Homo sapiens: one gene and its partner. The protein of the gene in region 2 purifies or fractionates together with the protein of the main gene of each other region. This does not show direct contact. Each region holds a gene or a part of one and is shown on either strand. Other genes may lie near its edges.

Region 1 (4,390 bases), on a different chromosome or scaffold from region 2:
AAATAGGTTTAGTATTTGCTGTCTGGAAACATTCTGATTAGTGTCTCCTGGGAGGATTATAAATTTATAGTACCCAAAGATAAACTGTTGTTTCCCTTTCCTAAACTTTTAGTGATAATCAGTCTCTGCCGTGTCTCATTTTCATCACTTGCCCTCCAAGCTCCCATCTCACTGAATTCTTGCAGTGTTCTGAATGTTGAGAGCCCCAAGTGGGTCTTATAACAGCCAGTCAGCAACATTTCTGTTTTTCATCTGACACCAAGGGTCTCGTCTCTTTGCTTTTCTACCAGTTATTCTGGGCTCTTCAGCTCTAAAGAAAGTATAGGTCCTGAAATCTTTCCCTACCTTCTCAATTTCCTGGGGAGGGCTTCTTTGGAAAGTGGGATTGGAAATAAGATAAATTTGAAGATAATTGAGAAATGAATGGAAAGTGAAATTGAAGGGTCCATGTTAAGAGATTGCAAGTTATGCTATCACCAAATAGATTTTTTGTGCCTGAGAGGATTAATTCATAGTGCATATTATGTGTTGACTTTATCATTGAGGTCCTGGCACATGATAGCATTGGCATGATATAATTTGAGCTACTGATACTATAGTGTTGCTTCTGGTGTTGTTACCAGAACATCTAAAATATATTAGGATTTTTTTAATGGCAGAGGAAATGAAGACTAATATGACATAGTCCTTGTCCTAGTGATTTACAGTTTAGCAAGACATACAAGCAAAACATTAAAGTAAAGCATGATAACTACTTTAATAAAGCATTTTTTAAATTCATTGGTAACATAAGAGAAGGTAGAAGAGTTTAGCAAACCCTTCCCAAAAGAAATGATTGACAAGTTATATGAGATAATAATTCAGGGAAAGGAAATTCGACTTTCTAAAGCCAAATTATTTGACATTGGTTTTCATATAGCTTGGTAAAAGCTGTTATTTTCTCCCATGTTCTTTATTCTTTGACTGTTATAAGTATGATTTGTACAGAGAAATGGCAATTTCAAAACAGAGGGCTTTGATGGATTAATTGCTTTGAATTGATCCCTCATCTACAGTATCTTGTCAGGTACTTGAGAAAATAATGTACTTAAAGTTTCCTCTTTTGACTTTCTTTTGGTATTCTATACTGTAAGTTGGGGAAAAAAGTATTTTCTCTTCCTGCTAATTGGGCTACTTGAAAATTCCCACCAACTTTGCCAATACCAGTGTTCTGTATAACCCAGAATTCAGAATTAGCTGCAATTAAGGGAATTCACAGCTTTTCTGTAGTCAGAGAGCAAATTGAAATTAAAGAAAAAAGAAATAGTGGGAGGACAAATGAGGTTTTACCTTTACACTTGAAAACAGATTTAAGAACAAGCCTTATACCTAGATTTATTAATACTTTGAGGTATGAGAGGGAAGAGAAGCTTAGAAATACGGCAGAATGGGCTTTCTTTGTTCTTCTCCCAGCTATGCTGTTTTTATTTATTATTGTATTTTTAAGAGAGAAGGGAAGTGTCTCTCCTGGGTCACATTAATTAGGAAATACAGAGTGTTTTCATAATGCGTAAAGTCTAGTCCATTTAAGTCTTGTTTCAAAATGCTATTTATATTATTTGAGCAGGAAGGCAGAGACCTTAAACTGCTCCACCCAATTCATTTTACACAAAAGATTAAAAAGAAAAAAACAGTGTCAAAAGGTCAAGTGCCCAGTGTTGCACAACTAATGATAGGCAAAACAAGAGAGGAGGGGAAAAAAAAGAATCCTGACTCCCGACTCCTAGTTCAGTGTGTTCTTCACTGTTAGAAGGTGCTGCTGAACATAGTTATACCATATGAAGATCACACTATCTATTTGAGATTGTAGAAATTTGATTACTGCAGAGCTCTGGCTGGGCTAGATTCACTTCTTATTCTTTATTGCATTGCAGTATTCTTAAGAGATAAATGGCTCTTTTAGAATCAGATTGGCCTTGGCTGTTGAAATGAGGCATTAATTACCTTGGTAGCTGACACATTCTTACAGGTCAGGGGCTTGATGAAGTTTATCTTCTTCCCTTGTTCCTGTGATTGCTCTGTAAATAGAACACATTCAGAGCCCTTGAATGCACTTGCAGCCTGTGCCTCCCACAGTGATCGATGGTCAGATAATGGGAGTTTAATGACCAGTACTGAGAGAGATTATTTCCATGGCTGCTATGGGCCAAGAAAGCTGGGTGGTCAGAAAGGGACCTTTTCCAGACTCTCCTGGGTTGTGTTATTTCTTTGACATTGGTTTCCTTTCATGAGGCGCCAAGGTGTATTTGTAAGTTGTCCAGTGTTGCACAGCTAATGAGGGGCAAAACAAGAAAGGAGGAAAAAAAAAGTATCCTCACTCCTAGTTCAGTGTGTTCTTCACTGTTGGAAGGTACTGCTGAACACAGTTATATGTTCAGTGTACAATGTACAATGTTCTTTGACATTCCGTCATTTGAAGGATGGGTCCTATGGATAGTATCATCTGCATGGTTTTGAAAACAAAAGATATAAGCTAATTTTGCCCTGTCTAGTGACTACGAGACAGGGAGAGAAAATCTGAATATTTGTTAAAGTAGACACAGACCCATAAATTGAAAAGGACACTAATCCTGCCTTAGGAGACAGTAAGGCACTTGTCCCTGCTATCTATTAGCTGTGTGTCCTTGGACAGCTCATTGCTTCTTTCTGAGCCACCGTTACACGTTATCTATCAAGTGAGCAGGTTGTACACTAGATGAATTCACAGGTCCTTCTTCCAAGTGCTTTTCTAATCTTCATAATTTAGATAATCTCTCAGTAGCAAAACAGTGTACAATATGGTCAATCTGAGATTTTTAGGGGGAGAATTTTAGGGAACATCAGAAATGGCAGTAGTTAAAAGGAAATAGGACTCACAGGCTGACTTCTCTCTATAACTTCACATGGTAGAAGGGATGAGAGTTCTCTCTGGAGCCTTTTGTATTAGGTCACTAATCCCAAAGGCCCCACCTCCTAAGACCATCACTTTTGGGATTGGGGTTTTAACATGATTTTAGAGGGACATAAACCTTCATCTCATTGCATTAGAGATATTTGAAAGCTCAGCTCACGTGTATTCCTCCACAGCTCACATGTATTCCTCCATCACCCAACCTGATGGCTTTGAACGTTGTAGACATAAATCCTTTCATCATTATCAAGAATATTGCCAAAAGCTTCTCAGAAATTATGAGGGGTTTTTTTAGTTTCTAAAATATTCTCAAAGAAAGTCCCATGTACTAATGTTTGCCTTTTGATGAAAAAGGATGAAATCTTAATGATTGCCTTAATAAGCTCAACAATGCTTGTTAGTTGAGTCTTCTTATTGTGCTGATTCTTATAAACAACAACATTCAGTATAAACATTAATGTATGTGATTCACTAAGGTTTTTGCATGATTCTCTGTGAGGCTTCAGATGTCTCTTGGATTATGTGTCTTTTTTTCATCGCCAGCATCCTGTGGCAGCTGCTACTCATTTGCTTCTATGGGTATGCTAGAAGCGAGAATCCGTATACTAACCAACAATTCTCAGACCCCAATCCTAAGCCCTCAGGAGGTTGTGTCTTGTAGCCAGTATGCTCAAGGTAAGTGTTGCATTTCAGACACCATTTATGAGCTATTTACCTGTGTGCAGCTGGCTGTTGTTGGCAAAGGCAAAAGGATGATGCAGTAGAGAGAGCGCAGTGTCTATAGTCAGAAAATCTGAGTGCAAGTCTGGCCCTATCACTTATTAATGGATGATTGCTCATGGAATTTACTGTACCATCCAGCAAAATGTCAATAGTTACTATATATTGAGTGAGCTCTGCTTGTTACATATATTGCCTAACAATGCTCAAAACTCTGAGAAGTAGTAAGTATAATCCCTATTTATGGGCGGGGAACAGGAACTAAGAAATTTTTCTAATAATTTGAAGGTCTCACAGCTTTTAGCATTGGAGTTTCACTTCTAATCATCGTCTCCAAAACCCAACTTTTATTAAAACTATACTAACACTGGTTTCTCTCTGGGAGAATTTTAAAATTCTGTACTTAGGGCTGGGCACAGTGGCTTATGCCTATAACCCTATCACTTTGGGAGGCTGAGATGGGTGAATCTCTTGAGTCCTAGAGTTTGAGACCAGCCTGGGCAACACGGCGAAACCCCTTCTCTATTAAAAATACAAAAAATTAGCTGGGCGTGGTGGTGTGTGCTTGTAGTCCCAGCTATTCAGGAGGCGGAGGTGTAAGAATCACCTGAGCCCAGGAGGTCAAGGCTGCAGTGAGCCGATATCATGCCACTGCACTCCAGCCTGGGCAAACGGAGTGAGGCCCTGTTATGAAAAAAAAAAAATCTGTACTTAGGCTTTCAGATCAGGCTGTATGTGATG
Region 2 (5,636 bases):
AGCCATAAAATGTAGTTTTTACAAAGAAAACAATGGACAGCCATATTAATGTAATGTGAGGAAAGAAAGCAAAACAACAACAACAACAACAAAAAAAAACGCTAATCTGACAGCAAAAATACACTGAACACATGCTACCCCTTCCATACACGTGTCTCTTTCTCTGCTGTTCAGATGACAGTGATGAGCTGAAACCAAGCTGGTTTCCAGAACAGTTTTTTGTTTTAACTAAAAGCCACATTCAACTTCCTGTCATCAACAAGCACAAGGACCAGAAGGAGCTGCCTTTGGCTCTGGGGACCCCTCCTTCCTGATGGTAACACTGCAGGTCCCAAGGGACCCCTCACTGCCAACACCAGTGTCAGAGTCACCTGAGAGCCTGGGGAAATGCAGGTTCCAGGACCTCCCCTAGATGGCCAAGCTCAGCCCCTGGTGCTCAGGAACAGAGCGGTTTCTATTCCATCTTCAGAGGCCTAAAGTCTTTTTTTTTTTTTTTTTTTCTGAGACGGAGTCTCGCTCTGTTGCCCAGGCTGGAGTGCAGTGGCGCGATCTCGGCTCACTGCAAGCTCCGCCTCCCGGGTTCACGCCATTCTCCTGCCTCATCCTCCCGAGTACCTGGGACTACAGGTGCCCGCCACCATGTCCAGCTAATTTTTTGTATTTTTAGTAGAGACCAGGTTTCACCGTGTTTGCCAGGATGGCCTCGATCTCCTGACCTCGTGATCTGCCCGCCTCGGCCTCCCAAAGTGCTGGGATTACAGACGTGAGCCACCTAAAGTCTTCTTAAGCAAAGGCTGCAGCAGTTTCAGGGGGGATGTGTGTGACACTAATTAGTGTGAAGGACAGTCCCAGGGCATGCCAGCGCAGGACACAGCTATCCACCAGCACACAGGACCAGCACGTGGCCAGCATTCTCTATGGGGTGGGGCACCAGCACTGCGCTGCTTTTTTGGGATGGAAGGCCAGGCTCCCTGGGCTGCTAAAGCACAAGGCAGGCACAGTCATCCAAAGCCCAGCCATGAAGCTCACCTTCTGGCCCAGAACCAACCACGGGACAGCCATTTGCCAGGTGGCCTCCCTTCACAATGGAGACTCTTTACCGGGATGGGGCGACAATCCCAAGGCCACAGAACTTCCAGTCCCATGCTTCTCTGCCCACTCCCGGCGCTGCACCACCCAGCCTGGGGGTGCCACGTGGTGACCAGAAACCTCGTCATCCTGTCTACCCTTGGTGGGGTCTGGTGTGCACCCACAGACATCCAGGACCCAGGAAAGGCCTCTTGCAGACCTCACACAGCAGTGGGAATGGCCTCCTCTGGGGCCCTCGCTCTGAGTTGACACTGACGTCCTGGCAAGGCCTCCCTGCAGTGCCCAGCTATGAAGCCTGTCCCCTCCCATTCCCCAATCACCCTGCCCTCAACACCCTGGGGCCCAGCTTTCCATCCAGTCCATAGCAGGCACAAAGACGCACGTCCTGCAGCCTCAGGCACAGATACTAGGGGACATGACTGTGGGGGAGGCCCCCGATGCTGCTTCCCCATCTTTTATCCAAATATAGCCCTCCTTGGTACAGGAAGGGCAGGCCTCCCCGACCCCAACGAAGCTTGGGGACACAGTGCACTGTCACTCATAGGAGTGAAAAAGACTGTCCCTGGAAAGTCAGGAGGCAGCGCAGGGGTACCAAGTGCTGCAGGCTGCCAGGAGGGGTGCCCTCCTGGGGGCTGGGCCTGAGACTGAGAGCCAGGCGGGCAAAAGGTCTTGAGACGAGGACGGCGCCATCTCCTTCCGGTGGGAGGCACTACCTCCATCTACCGCCCAGAGGGCCAGGCTGGGGTTGACTTTCCCTACATCCTAAGGCTACATCCCGTACTGAGGATCTCACCTGTGGGACATGTTCCGCTTTTAACACTTACGTTGGAAATAACCCTGGGTTCTGAAAGTGGGGGACAGGTTCATTGCACCCCCTGGCACCTGGTCCTCAGCTCTGAAAATGGAGCAATAAATGCACTGCAGGGGTGTCGGGGGGGACAGGTGAGGGGGCAGGTGAGGGGGGCAGGTGAGGGGAGCAGGTGAGAGGGGGCAGGTGAGGGAGAACAGGTGAGGGGGCAGGTGAGGGGGGCAGGTTAGGGGTGGGTAGGGTGGGGGCAGGTAAGCAGGGACAGGTGACAGGGGTAGGTAAGAGGGGGAGCAGGTGAGGGGTGGGTAGGGCCAGGACACACACGCCAGCAGAGAACTGAGCATCACAGAGGCATGAGGCGTGACACCTGGACTGAAGGCCCCACTAACATCAGTGTTCTTGTCTGGCTCTTTGTCTCTTTCAGATACTTGTTCCCAGGACCTTAACTCACGTGTGAAGCCAGGATTTCCTAAAACAATAAAGACCAATGACCCAGGAGTCCTCCAAGCAGCCAGATACAGTGTTGAAAAGTTCAACAACTGCACGAACGACATGTTCTTGTTCAAGGAGTCCCGCATCACAAGGGCCCTAGTTCAGGTAACGGTCTGGGTTCTGGTCACATATCACGGACACCCCTAGGAAGCCGAGCTGCTACAACGCGACACCTAGGAGAGCAGGGCGGATATAATGTGAAGTCCCTGCTGAGTGCAGAGCTCTGAGCAGAAAGCAGATGCACAAGGGGTGGGAGTGGACAGCAGCAGCTGAGGCCAGCATCCCCCAGGGCCAAGCGCAAAGGTTACACAAAGCACACGGCTCCTGGGTGGTTACCAGGCCCCTGGCCCAGAGCCTACTAGGCATGGGGTAAGGAGGTGCCAGGGCCCTAATGGGGCTCCTGAGGCAGGCGCCAAGGCTGATGGGGGAGAAAGCCGCTGTCCGAGGAGCTGCCCCTGCTGGGACCAGGGTCCTCACCCGGCCTCACCCCTCACGTGCCCTGCAGCCCAGAGGTGTCTTTGCCACTTTCCCCCTGGAGTGCTCACTCACATCCCAGAGTCCAAGAGCTCTGCCCAAGCCACTGCCCTTTCCCTGACTCATTCCTACTGCGCCCGCTCAGCACCCTCCCTCCTAGAGGACCCTTGTCTGTGTCCTGAGAACACCCACTTGCTAATGTGGGATGCAGGCTGTGGATGACACCCACCACCGTGTGCTGGTGCCTGTAAGGGGCAGAAGCAGCCCTGTCCAAGGCAGTCTTCACAGTGTTCATGGTTATGCTGGGTCACAGGGAGGGGTGATTTTTATAACCTAATTATTTTTGACAATTGCAAACTTGTGAAGGACAGCATGTTTTCATATGAGAATCGTGGGTGTGTAGCCAGGGTCCTCGCTCTGCAGCCTGGCCTCAGGGACAGGGGATCTTCCCTGGGTGATGCAGGCCCTCCCTCCTTCTCCGGGTAGGCCAGTGGGATGCCCTGGTTCTGAGTCCTTGGGGTTCTCTGGGAGGGGACTTGGAGGTTGTCTCTCTCTAGCTTGGTGATATTGGGGACAACGTAATTCCCCTAAAGCTGAGACTAAAACCTGAGGAATTTTTCTTCAACTCCTCTAAGACCACAAATGAGAATGAACAAGGCGGCTGCCATATCCAAGTGGAGAAGGGCTGTCCAGAAACTCAAAACTCCCGACCCCAGGAATGGAGAGGGGAAGCCCGCAGACCCCAGGCCTGACACAGAGGCCACAAGAAACAGCCATCATGGGGCTGGAGTGAGGGCTGCAGGGCGGGCCCAGCAGGGCATGCAGGAGACCTAGTGTGACGTCCCTCCTGAGTGCAGAGCTCTGGCCAGAAAGGAGACATCTGTCTCAGGAAGGGGCACAAACCCAGCACGGGGCAGGGAGGGGAGTGGGAGGGGTCTGCAGGCTCTGCCGTAAGCCCGAAGCATTGCCCCAAGATGCTGGCCCACTTCCCTTCTCCTCGGTGGGCACCTGCACCACTGTCTTGAGGCCCTGCTTCCTAGTGGAGAAGCCTGCCCTCCCTCCCCTGTGCCCAGTAACCCAGTCCCTTTGCTCCCTCCAGATAGTGAAAGGCCTGAAATATATGCTGGAGGTGGAAATTGGCAGAACTACCTGCAAGAAAAACCAGCACCTGCGTCTGGATGACTGTGACTTCCAAACCAACCACACCTTGAAGCAGGTAAAGCAGCAGGCCCTTCTCTCAGATGTGCCCTCTCTTCCCCAGCCCACTCCCTCCCAGGACTGTGAAAAACACCGTCACCACGTCTCTAACGCAGCGCCCCAAACCTCACCCCTGAGGAAGCCAGGCCTCCCAGACTCCCGCACGACTGAGGATCCGGGAGAACAGGAGGTAGAGCCTGTGCCAGGAGCTCCTCAGATGACATCCTCCCGTCCCAGAGGCGGAGACACAGCTCTGGAAGAGCGTCCTGGGGTGCGAGTGGAGAGGGTTAGAGTAAGAAAAGCTTTCAAACAATCCAGAAATTATATATGTATCATATACATACATATGATATGTATCATATGTATATCATATATAGCATATCTCTGCAGAGAGAGCAAGAGAACGGGAACACAGCAACATTTAGCAATTACAGAGGTGAAAAGCACATTTTCTTAAATCGTTCTTTCAAGTTTTCTGTAGGTTTGAAATTTTTCAAAATGAAAAATAGGGGCAGGAGAAGAGCTCCTCCATGAGGACCACCCCTCCACGGGCAGAGGGCTCCCCGCAGGGAAAGTCTAAGCTCTCAGGTGTGCCCTTCTCTGTTTCAGACTCTGAGCTGCTACTCTGAAGTCTGGGTCGTGCCCTGGCTCCAGCACTTCGAGGTGCCTGTTCTCCGTTGTCACTGACCCCCGCCTCTTCAGCAAGACCACAGCCATGACAAACACCAGGATGCATGCTCCTTGTCCCCTCCCACCCGCCTCATGACCCAGCCTCACAGACCCTCTCAGGCCTCTGACGAGTGAGCGGGTGAAGTGCCACTGGGTCACCGCAGGGCAGCTGGAATGGCAGCATGGTAGCACCTCCTAACAGATTAAATAGATCACATTTGCTTCTAAAATTAACTCCTGTTTCTGAGGCTTCCCACCTAGATTCCGGGTCTGGGTGCAGGGGACTGAGTCAATGGAGGGAGTTGTGAAACTAAGGGATGATCCCCTGTGGCTACAGGCCCCCAGGAGAGCAGGGGTACAGCTCTGGGTCTGAATAATCAGCAGAGATGTGGGTGGGGACACTGTTGGCCACTGGGCGCCTTGGCCGGTTGTGATGAACACAACTGGGAATCAAGATGAACAGCCAGCAGCAGCCATGCCGGCCCTTTTACGGGAGAGTCGGGAGGTGAGGCAAGCCTTACCAGGGATCTCCCTTACCAAGGGGTCTGACAAGTTGAAGTTACTTCCTCTGGGGGGCTGGCCAGCCTGAGCTGCTAGCTATAACCCCCCGAAGGCCAAAGCCCCAGAACAGGTGAGCTGTCCGCACCAGGAGGAGCAGGGCCACAACTGTGCCTCCCTGAGTTTCAGGCCTCCCAGGGACTTGCCCTGCTGCCTGAGTGGGGGCAGAGCAGCAGACCGCTCCCCAGAGCCCTCCAGAGAGGACGCCCCACTGAAGATGACTCTGTTGGGGGTGCACGAGGAGGGAGAGGCCACCGAGGGCTGGAGGGCACCAGGATTGGAAGAAGACTGGAAGAAGTGCCAGACTGGGCTACCTTGAGCCCTGGGCGCCCCAGAGGACTCTGCTGTG

Evidence for each region.
Region 1: the proteins of CST7 (region 2) and CTSC purify together in Homo sapiens (co-immunoprecipitation; one study listed by IntAct). This does not show direct contact.

What each region holds. Positions count from the first base shown.
Region 1 is NC_000011.10:88,295,347-88,299,736, reverse strand, and holds part of CTSC (dipeptidyl peptidase 1 isoform a preproprotein), read left to right. Parts: intron 1-3,472; coding exon 3,473-3,604; intron 3,605-4,390. UniProt on the Homo sapiens protein: Thiol protease. Has dipeptidylpeptidase activity. Active against a broad range of dipeptide substrates composed of both polar and hydrophobic amino acids. Proline cannot occupy the P1 position and arginine cannot occupy the P2 position of the substrate.
Region 2 is NC_000020.11:24,954,966-24,960,601, forward strand, and holds the end of CST7 (cystatin-F precursor), read left to right. Parts: intron 1-2,321; coding exon 2,322-2,494; intron 2,495-3,962; coding exon 3,963-4,079; intron 4,080-4,669; coding exon 4,670-4,747; 3' UTR 4,748-4,963; downstream 4,964-5,636. UniProt on the Homo sapiens protein: Inhibits papain and cathepsin L but with affinities lower than other cystatins. May play a role in immune regulation through inhibition of a unique target in the hematopoietic system.